2 separate regions of the Homo sapiens genome follow, and region 2 is linked to region 1. The links come from fine-mapping of genetic effects on gene expression. Tissue or cell type: whole blood. Region 1 holds a variant in brackets; the other region holds the start of a gene. All regions are shown on one strand. Distances are from middle to middle.

What was found. PIP is the estimated chance that this variant, and not a neighbour inherited with it, causes the effect.
Region 2: it holds the start of NQO1, and the variant in region 1 is fine-mapped to the expression of NQO1 in whole blood (TOPMed, PIP above 0.99).

The regions. Positions count from the first base shown.
Region 1 is chr16:70,445,841-70,453,942 of GRCh38, forward strand. LOC124903708 (a long non-coding RNA gene) reads right to left here. Exons shown (of 2, transcript XR_007065104.1): 2 at 7,197-7,627. Among named protein-coding and RNA genes, the nearest start is that of FCSK, 4.7 kb to the right of the region's middle. The variant G/A (reference allele first, on the strand shown) is at 3,807.
Region 2 is chr16:69,723,017-69,731,118 of GRCh38, forward strand. It overlaps NQO1 (NAD(P)H quinone dehydrogenase 1), which reads right to left and starts at 3,544. Exons shown (of 6, transcript NM_000903.3): 1 at 3,417-3,544. The coding sequence starts at 3,423. It overlaps NQO1-DT (NQO1 divergent transcript), which reads left to right and starts at 3,711. Exons shown (of 2, transcript NR_186363.1): 1 at 3,711-4,159. RefSeq lists enhancers at 3,027-4,019, 3,106-4,305, 3,552-3,811, 4,020-5,013.

The sequences.
Region 1 (8,102 bases):
TCTTCTTTTTTTTTTTTTTTCCCTCTGTACCTCAATGGGATGCAAAGGGAGCATCAAGTTTCCCCTTACCCTTCTCCTTCTCCTTCCCTTTCCTCTCCTTCTCGTTGTCCTTCCTCCTTCTTTTTTTTTTTTTTTTTTTGGACAGAATCTTGCTCTTTTGCCCAGGCTGGAGTGCAGTGGTGTGATCTAGGCTCGCTGCAACCTCCGCCTCCCAGGTTCAAGCAATTCTCCTGCCTCAGCCTCCCGAGTAGCTGGGATTACAGGTGCCTGCCACCATGCCCAGCTAATTTTTGTATTTTTAGTAGACACGGGGTTTCACCATGTTGGCCAAGCTGGTCTCGAACTCCTGACCTCGTGATCCGCCCGCCTTGGCCTCCCAAAGTGTTTGGATTACAGGCGTGAGCCACTGTACCTAGCCACATCACTCTTAATAAAACAAATGCAGATGAAAATCACCACACTGAGATATCATTTTTCACATACCAGATTGGCAACAATCAAAAAGCTTGATAACTATCTTGGCAAGAGTGTGGGGCATTCTTATCCACTGCTAGTGTAACTGGAAATCTGTGCCACCTAATCCCAAAATTCTGGGATTACAGATGGGAGACACCATGCCCGGCCTTTTTTTTTCTTTTTTAGTTTTCTTCCTCCAGTGCCAAGGAATTGGCTTTTTTGCGGGGTGGGGGGATACAGAGTCTGGCTCTGTCACCCAGGTTGAAGTGCAGTAGCGATATCTCAGCTCACTGCATCGTACACCCTCCAGGTTCAAGCCATTCTTTTGCCTCAGCCTCCCACGTAGCTGGGATTACAGGCACATGCCACCATGCTCGGCTACTTTTTGTATTTTAAGTAGAGATGGGGTTTCTCCATATCAGCCAGACTGATCTGGAACTCCTGCCCTCAGATGATCCGCCTGCCTCGGCCTCCCAAAATGCTGGGATTACAGGTGTGAGCCACTGCACCTGGCCTGGATTGCATTTTATGCTCCAGAGCTCCCTGTTCAATCAGATTGAGGCAAAATTTAGGTGAACTTACATCTTTACTTGGTTTCTTTCCCTGCCCTATCCTGCTTTCCCCACTCCCCTAGGAAGTCGCTTACACAAGAATTCCTGTCTCAGGCTCTGCATCTAGGCACCCAACCTAAAATATCCCTATGGGCAGTTCTGGCTCCCAGAGGGAATTTCTGCTACCAGTAACAGCCACACATCTCATCAGGGGCCTGAAGATTTCACCTTCTCCAAAAAGTCCTCCCTCCCAGACCTGGACCCTCACATTCTGGCAGTAGGTCATTTGTTTAACAATAAGGAGTTTGGATGCCTACATTGTATTAGGCACTGCGCTAAACCCTTTATGTGCATTAGCTCATGAAACCCTCCCAACAACCTAATTTGGAAATTCTATTTTAATCTCACAGATAAGGAAGTTGGGCTCAAACAGGTTGAGTGGCTTGCTCGCACGGTTAGAAAGTGATGAGAGGCCAGGTGTGGTGGCTCACACCAGTAATCCCAGCACTTTTGGAGCCCAAGGTGGGAGGATCGCTTGAGCCAAGGAGTTCAAGACCAGGCTGGAGGCCAAGAGTGGTGGCTCATGCCTATAATCCTAGAATTTTGGGAGGGTGAAGCAGACAAATCACCTGAGTTCAGGAGTTCAAGGCCAGCCTGGCCAGTATGATGAAACCCCATCTCTACTAAAAATACAAAAATTAGCCATGTGTTTGGCCAGGTGCGGTGGCTCATGCCTGTAATCCCAGCACTTTGGGAGGCTGAGGCGGGCGGATCATGAGGTCAGGAGATCGAGACCATCCTGGCTAACACGGTGAAACCCCGTCTCTACTAAAAATACAAAAAATTAGCCAGGCGTGGTGGCAGGCACTTGTAGTCCCAGCTACTCGGGAGGCTGAGGCAGGAGAATGGCATGAACCCGGGAGGCGGAGCTTGCAGTGAGCCAAGATCATGCCACCGCACTCCAGCCTGGGCGACAGAGTGAGACTCTGTCTCAAAAAAAAAAAAAATTAGCCAAGTGTGGTGGTATGTGCCTGTAATCCTCAGGAGGCTGAGGCAGGAGAATCACTTGAACCCGGGAGGCAGAGGCTGCAGTGAGCCGAGATTGGGCCACTGCACTGCAGCCTGGGAGACAGAGCGAGACTCCATCTCAAATAAAATAAAAAAACAACAACAAGAAAAAAACAAAAACCCAGCCTGAGCAACGTAGTGAGACCCAGTCTCTATGCTATAAGAAAAAAAATATTGTTTTTAAAGGGCTGAGTGTGGTGGCTCATGCCTGTAATCCCAGTACTTTGGGAAGCCACGGCAGGAGGATTGCTTGAACCCAGCTGTTCGAGACCAGCTTTGGCAACATGGCAAGACCCTGTGTGGTTGCACACACCTATAGTCCCAGCTACTTGGGAGGATCACTTGAGCCCAGGGGTTGGAGGCTGCTGTGAGCCGTGATTGCACCACTGCACTCCAAACTGGGCAACAGAGTGAGACCCTGTCTCAAAAGAGAGAAAAAAAGAAAAAGAAAAAAAAAAGAAAGTCGTGGCAGCTGAGCGGATTTGTCTAAGTTTAATCCTTGGATTTAATCACTAGACTCTGTTCTTTTTTATTTTTTGAGATGGAGTCTCGCTGTGTCACCCAGGCTGGAGTGTAGTGGCATGATCTTGACTCACTGCATCTCCTGCCTCCTGGATTCAAGCAATTCTCCTGCCTCAGCCTCCTGAGTGGCTGGGATTACAGGCACGCGCCAGCACGCCCAGCTAATTTTTGTATTTTTAGTAGAGACAGGGTTTCACCATGTTGGCCAGGCTGGTCTCAAACTCCTGACCTCAAATGATATGCCCACCTCGGCCTCCCAAAGTACTGGGATTACAGGCATGAGCCACCATGCCCGTCCGACTGTGCTCTATTTTATTGTTATTTTTTTGAGATGGAGTTTCACTCTTGTTGCCAAAGCTGGAATGCAGTGGCATGATCTCGGCTCACTGCAACCTCCACCACGTGGTTTCAAGCAATTCTCCTGCCTCAGCCTCCTGAGTAGCTGGGATTATAGATGCCCACCACCATGCCCTGCTAAGTTTTTGTATTTTTAGTAGAGATGGGTTTTACGTGTCGGCCAGGCTGGTCTCGAACTCCTGACCTCGTGATCCTACCGCCTCAGCCTCTCAAAGTGCTGGGATTACAGGCATGAGCCACCATGCCTGGCCGACTGTGCTTTATTTTATAACAGTTTGTGTGTATGTGTGTGTAATGGCTCTGTGTACCCCAGATGGTGAGGCCACGTACAGATTTTTGGGTCTGCTGCTGCACTGAGGGCTTCATTTTACTAAAAACCTTCCTTGAGTTTCTTTGCTCCTCAGGCAAGGAGATGCCAGAGCAGCCTGGAAGCTACCTCTCCTCTACTAACCATACTGCCCTAGGAGGTATAGGGTGGAGCATAAGGCCTCTAAGCTCCTTGGGGGCACACTGTTTTCTTGAGCCCCCACCAAACCCGCAGTTGCAGGCATCCCTACTTCCCACTTCACTGCAGAGCCCAGGACCTGCATTGCTGAGAACAGCAACAGTGAGAGGCAGTTCATCACCTCCCTGGAGGCCTCCTAGGTTCACAGAAGAAACAGCAGGCATTGAAGTGGGAGAAGGAGGATGAGACCTGGGCCAAGTGTAGATGGAGAATGACTCCAGTGGGAGAAGACTGAGGGAAGCAGACAGTGTGAGGAGAAGGTGGGTGGCGAGAGCTGAGCAGAAGGTTGCTCTTCATTCATTCAACCAATTGGGTTTTTTTTTTGAAACAAAGTCTCTCGCTCTGTC[G/A]CTCAGGCTGGAGTGCAGTGGTGCAATCCCAGCTCACTGCAACCTCCACCTCCCGGCTTCCAGCGATTCTCCTGCCTCAGCCTCCTGAGTAGCTGGGATTACATGCACCCACCACCATGCCCAACTAATTTTTGTATTTTTAGTAGAGAGAGGATTTCACCATGTTGGCCAGGCTGGTCTCGAACTCCTGACCTCAGGTGATCTTCCTGCCTCGGCCTCCTAAAGTGCTGGGATTATAGGTGTGGGCCACCACACCTGGCCAATCAATTGTTTTTAACCACCTACTGTGTCCGGAATTGGTGGGTTCTTGGTCTCACTAACTTCAAGAATGAAGCCACGGACCCTTGCCGTGAGTGTTACAGCTCTTAAGGTGGTGCGTCTGGAGTTTGTTCCTTCTGACGTTCGGATGTGTTCAGTTTCTTCCTTCTGGTGGGTTCGTGGTCTCCTTGGCTCAGGAGTGAAGCTGCAGACCTTCACGGTGAGAGTTACAGCTCTTAAGGTAGTGCGTCGGGAGTTGTTGGTTCCTCTCGGTGGGCTCCTAGTCTTGCTAGCGTCAAGACTAGAAGCTGTAGACCTTTGCGGTGAGCGTTACAGCTCATAAAAGGAGTGGGGACCTAAAGAGTAAGCAGCAGCAAGATTTATTGCCAAGAGCGAGATAACAAGACCTCCCCAATACCACAGGGGATCCTAGCAGGTTGCCGCTGCTGGCTCCGCAACCTGCTTTTATTCTCTTATCTGGCCCCACCCACATCCTGTTGATTGGTAGAGCTGAGTGGTCTGTTTTGACAGGGCGCTGATTGGTGTGTTTACAATCCCTGAGCTAGACACAAAGGTTCTCCACGTCCCCACCAGATTAGTTAGATACAGAGTATCGACACAAAGGTTCTCCAAGGCCCCACCAGAGTAGCTAGATACAGAGTGTGGATTGGTGCACTCACAAATGCTGAGCTAGACACAGGGTGCTGATTGGTGTGTTTACAAACCTTGAGCTAGATACAGAGTGCCCATTGGTGTATTTACAATCCCTGAGCTGGACATAAAGGTTCTCCACGTCTCCACCAGACTCAGGAGCCCAGCTGGCTTCACTCAGTGGATCCCGCATTGGGGCTGCATGGTGGAGCTGCTTGCCAGTCCTGCGCCCTGCGCCCGCACTCCTCAGCCCTTGGGTGGTCGATGGGACTGGGCGCCGTGGAGCAGGGAGCGGCGCTCGTCGGGGAGGCTCTGGCGGCACAGGAGCCCACGGCGTGGCTGGGGAGGCTCAGGCATGGCGGGCTGCAGGTCCGGAGCCCTGCCCCGCGGGGAGGCAGTTAAAGCCGGGCGAGAAATCGAGCGCAGCGCCAGTGGGCCGGCACTGCTGGGGGACCCAGCACACCCTCTGCAGCCGCTGGTCGGGGTGTTAAGCCCCTCATTGCCCGGGGCTGGTAGGGTCGGCCGGCTACTCCGAGTGCGGACCCGCCAAGCCCACACCCACCCGGAACTCGTACTGGCCCGCAAGCACCGCGCACAGCCCCGGTTCCCACCCACGCCTCTCCCTCCACACCTCCCTGCAAGCTGAGGGAGCCGGCTCCGGCCTTGGCCAGCCCAAAAAGGGGCTCCCGCAGTGCAGCGGTGGGCTGAAGGGCTCCTCAAGTGCCGCCAAAGCGGGAGCCCAGGCAGAGGAGGCGCGGAGAGCGAACGAGGGCTGTGAGGACTACCAGCACGCTGTCACCTCTCACTACCATGTCCTCAGCACTGTTCTAAGGCCTGAGGATACAATGGTGAACAAACCAAACATCCTGCTTTAATGGAGCAGGATGGGAATAATGACGATAATCATAATGGTTAATACTTTTTGAGTATTTACTATGGAGTCAAGCATTTATCCTACCCTCACAACAATCTCAGATATTTGATACTATTATTAACTTACTTTATAGATGGTTACACAGAGTTAGAGCAGGGTCCATCTCCATTGTGACTGACCTCAGTGCCTCTCAGCCTCATTATTTTGTAAATTTATTTTTTTTTAAATTTTATTTGTTTTTTGAGACAGAATCTCGCTCTGTCACCCAGGCTGGAGTGCAGTGGCACGATCTCAGCTCAGTGCAATTTCCGCCTCCTGGCTTCAAATGACTCTCCTGACTCAGCTTGCCGAATAACTGAATTACAGGCTCCTGCCACCACGCCTGGCTAATTTTTGTATTTAAAAAATTGGCCATTGGCGGCCGGGCACTGTGGCTCATGCGTGTAATCCCAGCACTTTGGGAGGCCGAGGTGGGTGCATCATGAGGTCAGGAGATCAAGACCATCCTGGCTAACACGGTGAAACCCCCGTCTCCACTAAAAGTACAAAAAACTAGCTGGGCGTGGTGGCGGGTGCCTGTAGTCCCAGCTACTCAGGAGGCTGAGGCAGGAGAATGTCATGAACCTGGGAGGCAGAGCTTGCAGTGAGCCGAAATGGTGCTACTGCACTCCAGCCTGGGAGACAGAGTGAGACTCCATCTCAAAAAAAAAAAAAAAAAAAAAATTGGCCACTGACTGGGCACGGTGGCTCACGCTTGTACTCCCAACGCTTTGGGAGGCCGAGGTGGGTGGATCACCTGAGGTCAGGAGTTGGAGACCAGCCTGAACATGGTGAAACCCCGTCTCTACTAAAAATACAAAAATTAGCTGGGCGTGGTGGCACATGCTTGTAATCCCAGCTACTCAGGAGGCTGAGGCAAGAGAATCACTTGAACCTGGGAGGCGGAGGTTGCAGTGAGCCGAGATCACACCACTGTACTCCAGCCTGGGCAACAGAGTGAGACTCTGTCTCACAACAACAATAACAAAAAAATTGGCCAGGCTCATCTTGAATTCCTGACCCCGAGTTTTCTGCCTGCCTTGGCCTCCCAGAGTGCTGGGATTACAGGCATGAGCCACTTCGTCCGGCCCTAATTTATATATATTTTAGAGACGGGGTCTTGCTATGTTGCCCAGGCTGGTCTCAAACTCCCAAGCTCAAGCCATCCTCCCACCTTGGCCTCCCAAAGTGTTGGGATTACAGGCGTGAGCACCTGTGCCCAGCTTTAGGCTCCTTATTAACAACAGATTTGGAAAGTACATTCTTGTAAGAAAAATTCAAACAATACAGATAAAGCTCAAGTTCTCCCCGCTTGTCCCCATGCTTAGCAGTCTCTCCCTAGCATGCGTTCGCTTCCAGCCCTGTTCCTGTGTATCCACACACTATCTGTCCATAAACATTATTTTTTATTTGAGGGGCTTCCCATACATATTGCTCTACAACTTGCTGCTTTTCCCTTAACATGATGTCCTGAACATCACTCCCTACTGAACATATAGAGCATCTGTCTTGCATGGATGTGCCTAGTTTAGTTTTCCAGTTGTAAACCAAAAAGCACCAGATACTGGTCTCAATCAATTTACAAGTTTATTTTGCCAAAGTTAAGAATGTGTGCACCTGGGAGACAGGTCTGTACCTTTCTCCAAAGATGATTTTGAGGGCTTCAATATTTAAAGGGGAAAGGTCAGATATTGGGGAAAGAGGAATTTTTTTTTTTTTTTTAGACAGGGCCTCACTGTGTTGCCCAGGCTGGAGTGCAGTGGTGCAATCTCAGCTCACTGCAACCTCTGCCTCCCGGGTTCAAGCGATTCTCCTTCCTCAGCCTCCCAAGCTGCTGGGACTACAGGTGCGCGCCACCACGCTCAGCTAATTTTTGTATTTTTAGTAGACGGGGTTTCACCATATTGGCCAGGCTGGTCTTCAACTCCCGACCTCATGATCCACCCGCCTCGGCCTCACCAAAGGGCTGGGACTACAGGTGCGAGCCACCGTGCCTGGCCTGAAAGAGGAAATTTTTAAAAGGCATGGGTAGGTAAGAGGCAAATGGCTGCATTCTTCTGAGTCTTTGATAAGCCTTTCACATGTTAGAGGGGGATAGAGGACTAGTCACTTATGCATTCATCTAGCTCAGTGAATATGCATTTTTACATAAGAAAAAATAAACATAGGGCAGAGGAAGCAATGAGATATGCATTTGTCTCAGGTGAGCTGAGAGATGACTTTCAGTGCTGTCAAAGCCCAGCACCTGTGAAGATAAGCTATAAATTTACATTGTCACTGAAATTCCACACAACTGTTTTAGGGTACAGATTTGGGGGCACACAAGGAATTTCCTAGTGGGCAAGTTGTGAGGGCCAGGCCATATCTAGCTTTTTTATCTTTGTAGTTATCTTGTTTAAGAATAAAATGGGAGGTAGGTTTCCCTGATGCAGTTCTCAGCTTGACTTTTCCCTTTGACTTAGTGACTTTGGGGT
Region 2 (8,102 bases), 720 kb before region 1:
TCCCAGGTTCACGCCATTCTCCTGCCTCAGCCTCCAGAGTAGCTGGGATTACAGGCGCTCGCCGCCACGCCCGGCTAATTGTATTTTTAGTAGAGACGGGGTTTCACCGTGTTAGCCAGGATGGTCTCGATTTCCTGACCTCGTGATCCGCCTGTCTCGGCCTCCCAAACTGCTGGGATTACAGGCGTGAGCCACAGCGCCCAGCCAACAGTTTTTATTTTATTGACTTCTCATCAATGTTAACAAGCATTTTCTAAGTAGTAAGACAGTCAAGGCACTTCTCAGAAAATGAGCAAATCAGGATATCCATCTCTTGCTCTTTCAAGGAGCTCAGACTCTAATAGCTATAAGCAGGCCTGTGACTTTACAATTTTTCATGTAAGGCAACACACAAGCAGGAATAATATATTTGCAACAAATATAACCATCAAAGTGCAGTACCTGGAATAGGTAGATCCCCAAAACAACTCAAAAGAAAAATGATCAAAAGAAGGTTGTGGGTGGGTCGCGGTGGCTCACACCTGTAATCTCAGCACTTTGGGAGGCTGAGGCGGGCAGATCACCTCATGTCAGGAGTTAGAGACCAGCCTGGTTAACATGGTGAAACCCCGTCTCTACTAAAAATACAAAAAAAAATTAACCAGGTGTAGTGGCAGGTGCCTGTAATCCCAGCTAATCGGGAGGCTGAGGCAGGAGAATTGCTTGAATCCAGGAGGCGGAGGTTGCAATGAGCCGAGATCGCACCATTGCACTCCAGCCTGCGCAACAGAGCAAGCCTCTGTCTCAAACAAACAAACAAAAAGATGCTTGTGAATAGGCAATTTAAAAGTTTTCTGGGCCCTGGAGGGTTCATTTTCCCTTCCTGCCACTTAACTAGCTGAGCAACATGACCTGGGAGGAGTTAGACTATTAGAGTTTACCCTGAGAGAGGCCACAAGATGCACACACGGATAACCTCTTCAGGGTACAATGGCATTAGTGTGTTAGGAGAGGTAAGGGACAAAGTTCAACAGAAGGCTGGGTGTGGTGGCTCATGCCTGTAATCGTAGCACTTTGGGAGACCGAGGCGGGTGGATTACTTGAGGTCAGGAGCTAGAGACCAGCCTGGCCAACATGGTGAAACCCCGTCTCTACTAAAAATACACAATTAGCTGGGCGTGGTGGTGGGCGCCTGTAATCCCAGCTACTTGGGAGGCTGCAGCACAAGAATCGTTTGAACCTGGGAAGTGGAGATTGCAATGAGCCAAGATCACGCCACTGCACTACAGCCTGGGCAACAGAGTGAGTGAGACTCCATCTCAAAAAGTTCAACAGAGGAAAACTTCAGGACCTCAGGGCTGGCCCATTCGGAAAGGCCCTCAGAGGAGCTTGCCATTTGAGCTGAATCTTGGTCTTGAACTCCTGGCCTCAAGCAGTCCTCCCGCCTCAGCCTCCCAAAAGTGCTGGGATTACAGGAATGAGCCACCACTCCCAGCCAAAATTTTTTTTTTTTTTAATTAGCTGGGTTTCAAGTTCTTCTGCTCTGACCAAAAAAAATTAGCTGGGTGTGGTGGCACACACCTGTAGTCCCAGCTACTCGGGGGCAAAGATGGGACAATCACTTGAGCCCAGGAGGTCAAGGCTGAAGTGAGCCCTGATCATGCCACTGCACTCCAGCCTGGGCAACAAAGCAAGACCCTGTCTCAAAAAGAAAAAAAGAAGTATGATAAAGATAAGCCTTTGTATCAGTTTCATGCATTCTCCTTCTGCCTTCTCTTCTCACTTGAGTGCTCCAGGGAACATGAGTGCAAATCAGATGCATCTATTAGTTGCAAACAAAAAACCTGGATGCTTTAGTTAACCTCAAGATTTGGTTAGCTGGGTACAGCTAAAACTAATTATACAAGATCCAAGTCTTCCCTTTTCACCTCATTACCACCGCCCTTTTTTGTGTTTAAGCTACACGTAAATACAGAACATTCTGTAAGATTGAAAAGTCAGGAAATAGTTCCTGCCCTAGTATTGGAGGAGAGGGTGCCAGTGCCTCGACGCTGAAGAATGAAATACAAGGGAAACAGCAACCACCGTGTATGCGGCAAGCCTCTCAGCTGTCAGAATCTATTCCCTGCTGTCTCTGCCAGTAACTCATGCTGGGCTACCAATCCCCAGCTTAGTCCCTTTCTCAGAGATCCTGATAATTTCAGTTTGTCAACTGCAAGGGCAGTCTGTTCCTCCACTCACTTTGACCAAGATGGGCTTCTTTGTGTACAGGCGCATTTTTAGAGGCAGGACCAGGTCCACAGGGAAGGAAATTACAAAACACAGGATTCTGCCCCAGATGAGGCAACAGCTTTCTAAATCTTAGTACTGTCCAATCTCAGAGTGAGATTATTTGGGAAACAGCTCTCAATCCCTGCAGTTGTCTCAGCTGGTTATTTATGCCTTGGGTGGAGCTGGGGTGACCTCTGAGTTCCCCTAGGGTCGATGGCCGAGTGGGAAGGCTCTATCACTGAAGTGGACCCAATACTAGAAACGGATCCAGTACGATCTGATCAGGTTTGCCTAATCCAAGGGCCTCAATGGAAAATGCCTCCCAAGGCCAGGCACGGTGGCTCACGTCAGTAATCTCAGCACTTGGGGAGGCTGAGGTGGGTGGATCACCTGAGGTCAGGAGTTCAAGACCGCGCTGGCCAACTTGGCGAAACCCGTCTGTACTAAAAATATAAAAATTAGCCGCGCATGATGGCGCACTCCTGTAATCCCAGCTACTCGGGAGGCTGAGATGGGAGAATCGCTTGAACCCGGGAGGCGGAAGTTTCGCTGAGCTGAGATAGCGCCATTGCACTACAGCCTGGGCGACAAGAGCAAAACTCCGTCTCAAACAAAACAAAACAAAACAAAACAAAACAAAACCTGTGCCTGGCAGCCTGGAGCCGGTTCTGGTCTCCGTCAAACCAAAGGCATCAGTTTCCTCCACTCCTGTCCACCAATCGCCAGATATTCTCATTTTCTTCAGAAGCTCGGAATCCACATTTTTAAGTGAAATCACCCATTTTAATGTTAGCAACTTATTTCAAAGTGTTTTAGATACTATAGACCAAAAGAGGTATGGGCTGTGACCGTAAGCCTGATTTGGCCTCTGACGGCCAGTTTCTGACCACAGTTTTGGAGGGAATTTCTGCTTCCAAGGTCAAGTTTCTCCTAAATGCCCACTAGAGTTCGTGGGGTGGAGTGAGGAAGGATCCGCGACACCGGATACAAACAGAAGCTCTCCTTCTCCCGGAGTCCGATCAAGGCTCATCCCAGGTCCCTAATCTCTTCCCTTTGTGGGTTTTGAGTCAAGGAACAAAATTCAGGGCCAAGCCCCTACAACCTCCTCCACAGGCACCAGTGCTCGAGAGACGACCGCCAAGCACCCCGCCCTTTGCAGCACTCACCGACCATGGCTCTGGTGCAGTCCGGGGCGCTGATTGGCTGGGCTCGTGGTTGCCGGGGCGACCCTGGCCGGAACTAGGCTCTCGGTGAGCTGGGCGGCTCCGGCTGCAACCTTGTGGGAGTCGCGTGTGTAGTGCACGGTGCATTCTCTCTTATATATCCTGTCCGGCCCGTTTGAGGTGGACAGCCTACAAGGGCGGGACCCAACGCCTGAATCCTGGGGTGCTGGGCGGAGGATGCTGAGGCTGCAGCTCCAGGAAGGGAGGGAGCCTGGGGGATGAAGGAGGGGCCTCTCCACTCTCACCCGCCGGAGCAACTGGTGGAAGTCAAGAAAAGTCTCTCGGGGCTGGGGGAGGGGATTGTAGGGGTGTGTGTGACAGAGGCCTCAAAAATCTGGCTGGGGGTGCTAAGGCAAGCCCATCTGCGCACTGTGCCCTGAGGTGCAAGAGGATGCAGGGTGGAAGTCGTCCCAAGAGAGTCCAGGGATCAAGTGGGCATGCCCTTTTAGCCTTGGCACGAAATGGAGCAGAAAAAGAGCCGGATGCGGATTACTGTGGTGCCCTAGGCTCAGATTCTGCTGAGTCACTGTGACTGCGGATTTGGAAGGCTGAGAGTCCTGGGGAGACATGCTCCGTGGAGACGAATTTGTTTCTTCCTTTGCAAGATTCAGATTCTGCACTTGGGGGCCCATACAACACACTTCCCTGGGTGCATGCCACTGCACCACCCCTGCTCCTCAAGGCAGGTAATGGGGGAACTAATTGGTTTTGTTTCCCATGAGCTAAGGCAAGGCTGGTGTGGAGATAGCAGTTATAGGGAAGCATATTAAAGAATAGCCAAAACGGGACCAGGCGCGGTGGCTCACGCCTGTAATCCCAGCAATATGGGAGGCCGAGGTGGGTGGATCACCTGAGGTCAGGAGTTCGAGACCAGCCTGGCCAACCTGGTGAAGCCCCGTCTGTACTGAAAAATTAGCTGGGCGTGATGGCGGGCGCCTGTAAGTCCCAGCTACTCGGGAGGCTGAGGCAGGAGAATCGCTTGAACCCGGAAGGCGGAGGTTGCAGTGGGTCGAGATCGTGCCACTGCACTCCCGCCTGGGTGACGAAGTGAGACTCCGTCTCAAAAAAAACTCTATAAAGTAAAAGTTACTGTAAAGAAGGAGATATACTCTCAGTAGGTGAAGGAAAAAGAACTAGAGCTTTAAAGTGGTAATTAACCATCAGAAGAATCACAGATGGGGGAGGTGAGGATGACACAGGGCCCTTCCGTTGTCCCTCCAGTGCAAAAGTTAAGGAGGCACCAGAAAACTGGTTTCCAACTCCCGACCTCAGGTGATCCTACCGCCTCGGCCTCCCGAAGTGCTGGGATTACAGGCATGAGCCACCGCGCCCGGCCCCATCGTGACATTTTTGCATTCATTTTGATGCAACAAGAGAGGACTATATTATTTACACGTATTTACAAATTACTTTGGGAGGCTGAGGCAGGAGGATCACTTGAGCCCAAGAGTTTGAGAAAAGCCTGAGCAACAAAGTGAGACCCCATCTGACAAAATAGTATAAAAGGACGTTTTAAAAAAGGGCTAGGTAGGCAGCCCTGTCCAATAGAACTTTCCCTATCTGTGCTGCCCAAGTAAGGTAGCCACAAGCTTCAAGTAGCTATTGAGCACTGGAAATGTGGCCAGCAGCCAGGCGTGGTGGCAGGCGCCTGTGTCCCAGCTACTCAGGATCTGAGGCAAAAAGATCGCTTGAGCCCAGGAATTCAAGGCCGCAGTGGTGGACTCAATAAAAGAAAAAAAATGGAAATTAAAAAAAAAAAAGTGGCCAGTGGACTGAGGAAGTGAAGTTTTAATTGTAATTAAATTAATTTTTTAAAAATTTATTTTTTGAGGCGGGGTTTCACTGTGTCGCCCAGGCTGGAGTGCAGTGGCAGGATCTTGGCTCACTGCAATCTCCATCTCCTGGGTTTAAGCAATTCTTGTGCCTCAGCTTCCTGAGTAGCTAGGACTACGGGCATGCACCACCACAGTCAGCCACTTTTTGTATTATTCGTAGAGATGAGTTTCACCATGTTAGCCAGGCTGGTCTCAAACTCCTGACCTCAGGTGATCTGCCCACCTCGGCCTCCCAAAGTGCTAGGATTACAGGCATGTGCCACTGCGCCTGGCTTTAATTAAATTTAGATAGCCACATGTCACTAGTGTTTGGAAAGACCTGAGCTGGTTCAGATCGAGGCCGCAGTGTGCTGGCTATTCTATCTCTCACTCTTCTAGTGAGATTGTTTTCTCAATCACCAGTCTCCCTGACCCATCCAGAGGTGGGGCTCAAAGCCACAAAGCTCAAGTGTCGTGTTCGGTCGTTGGTTTCCAGCATGGCCAGTTCCCATCCTCAGTCATCTTGTTAACATGAACTATATAGGGGCCCATCCCAAGTCATCTCATTAGCATAAACCATCAGGAGTGGTCTGAGAAGCCCACAATGAATAAGATGGACACTCCTATCATTTGGGATTTAGGGGCTCAGGGGCATGATGATAGTTCACTGCAGCCTCGACCTTCTGGAGTCAAGCAATCCTCCTGCCCCAGCCTCCTGAGTAGCTGAGATGACAGGTGCATGCCACCGTGCCTGGCTAATTTTTTTTTATTTTTTTGGTAGAGATAGGGTCTCACTATGTTGCCCAAGCTGGTCTCAAACTCCTGGGCTCATGTGATCCTCCCGCTTTGATCTCCCAAAGTGCTGGAGTTACAGGTATGTGCCACCACTCCTGGCCAAATTTGTTACTACACAGTGGTAAAGACAGACATTTGAGGTGGCAGTGAACCAAGATCATGCCACTGCACTCCAGCCTGGGCAACAGAGGGAGATCCTGTCTCAAAAGAAAAAAAGAAACTTACTGGCCGGGCACAGTGGCTCAGGCCTGTAATCCCAGCACTTTGGGAGACTGAAGCGGGTGGATCACTTGAGCTCAGGAATTGGAGACCAGCCTGGCCAATGTGGTGAAACCCCGTCTCCACTAAAAATACAAAAACATGAGCTGGGTGTGGTGGTGGGCGCCTCCAGTCCCAGCTACTCGGGAGGCTGAGGCACGAGAATCGCTTGAATTCAGGAGGCAGAGGTTGCAGTGAGCTGAGATTGTGCCACTGCACTCCAGCCTGGGCAACAAGAGCGAGACTCCATCTCAAGAAAAAAAGAAAAAGAAAAAGCTGCTGTGGAGCATGGGCGAGCACTGCTGCCTGGACAAAGACCGAGGGTCCTCGGGAGGGCAGTACTGATGTACAGGTTTCCAGCAGGTCGGCGTGTGTGTTCTCTCCTGCAGGTCTGCAGCCAGGCGTGCCAGGAGAGGGGGAGTCTGAGGGATTGATGTAGGTTGGGAAAGCATGATGAGAGGAGACAGAGTGGGGGCTGTGAAGAAGAGAGCGACTTGATGGTGGCGGTAGTTACACAGATGTATGTATTTATTAAAATCCGCTGAAAAGTACATTTTAAATACAAGCATTTTATTGTATGCATGTTATTCCTCAACAAAGTCCATTTTTAAAAAGTAGAGTGGTTGGAGTGATGACGAACATTATGAAAGGGCTTATTGGCAGAGAAAAAGTAGAGGGGTCCAGAGACTCAAGTTCCTAACGAGGCTGAAGTAAGAGTGGGGGATTAAATAAGGGCAAAAACTGAGAGAATAAAAAAAGTGGGTTGTTTGGGGCCAGGTGCGGTGGCTTATACCTGTAATCCCAGCACTTTGGGAGGCCAAGGCAGGGGGATCGCTTGAGCCCAGGAGTTCAAGACCAGCCTGGGCAACATAGTGAGACCCCCCCGCAACCCCCCCCACCTCTGCCATCTCTAAAAAAATTAAAAATTAGCTAGGTGTGGTGGTGTGCACCTGTGGATCCAGCTACTAAGGAGGCTGAGATGGGTGGATCATCTGAGCCTGGGAAGTCGACGCTATAGTGAGCTGTGACTGTACCACTGCACTCCAACCTAGGCAGCACAGTGACACCCTATCTAAAAACAAAAAGAAAAAACAAAAACCCAAGTGGGTTGATTGGGAAACACAGGAGATAGAAGTTAAAATCATGGGGAAACATCAGTCAAATCACAGTGTGGGACATTCTACAGGACAACCAACCTGGTTTATCCCATAATTCAGTGCTATAAGAAAAATGAAGGAGTGTATATTGATCAGGATTTTCCAGAGAAACAGAACCAATTGAATTTCTATAAATATATAAAAAGCAATATATTGCTGGGTGCAGGGCTCACACCTTGTGATGGTTAATAATGAGTGTCAACTTGATTGGATTGAAGGATGCAAAGTATTGATCCTGGGTGTGTCTGTGAGGGCGTTACCAAAGGAGGTGAACATTTGAGTCAGTGGGACTGGGAAGGGCGGACCCATCCTCAATCTGGGTGGGCACCAACTAATCAGCTGCCAGTGCGGCCAGAATATAAAGCAGGCAGAAAAACGTGAAAAGACTAGACTAGGCCTGGTGCCGTGGCTCACGCCTGTAATCCCAGCACTTTGGGAGGCCGAGACGGGTGGATCACTTGAAGTCAGGAGTTCAAGACCAGCCTGGCCAATATGGCAAAACTCATCTCTGCTAAAAATACAAAAAAATTTAGCTGGGTGTTGTGGTGCATGCCTATAATGCCAGCTACTCAGGAGGCTGAGGCAGGAGAATAGCTTGAACCCAG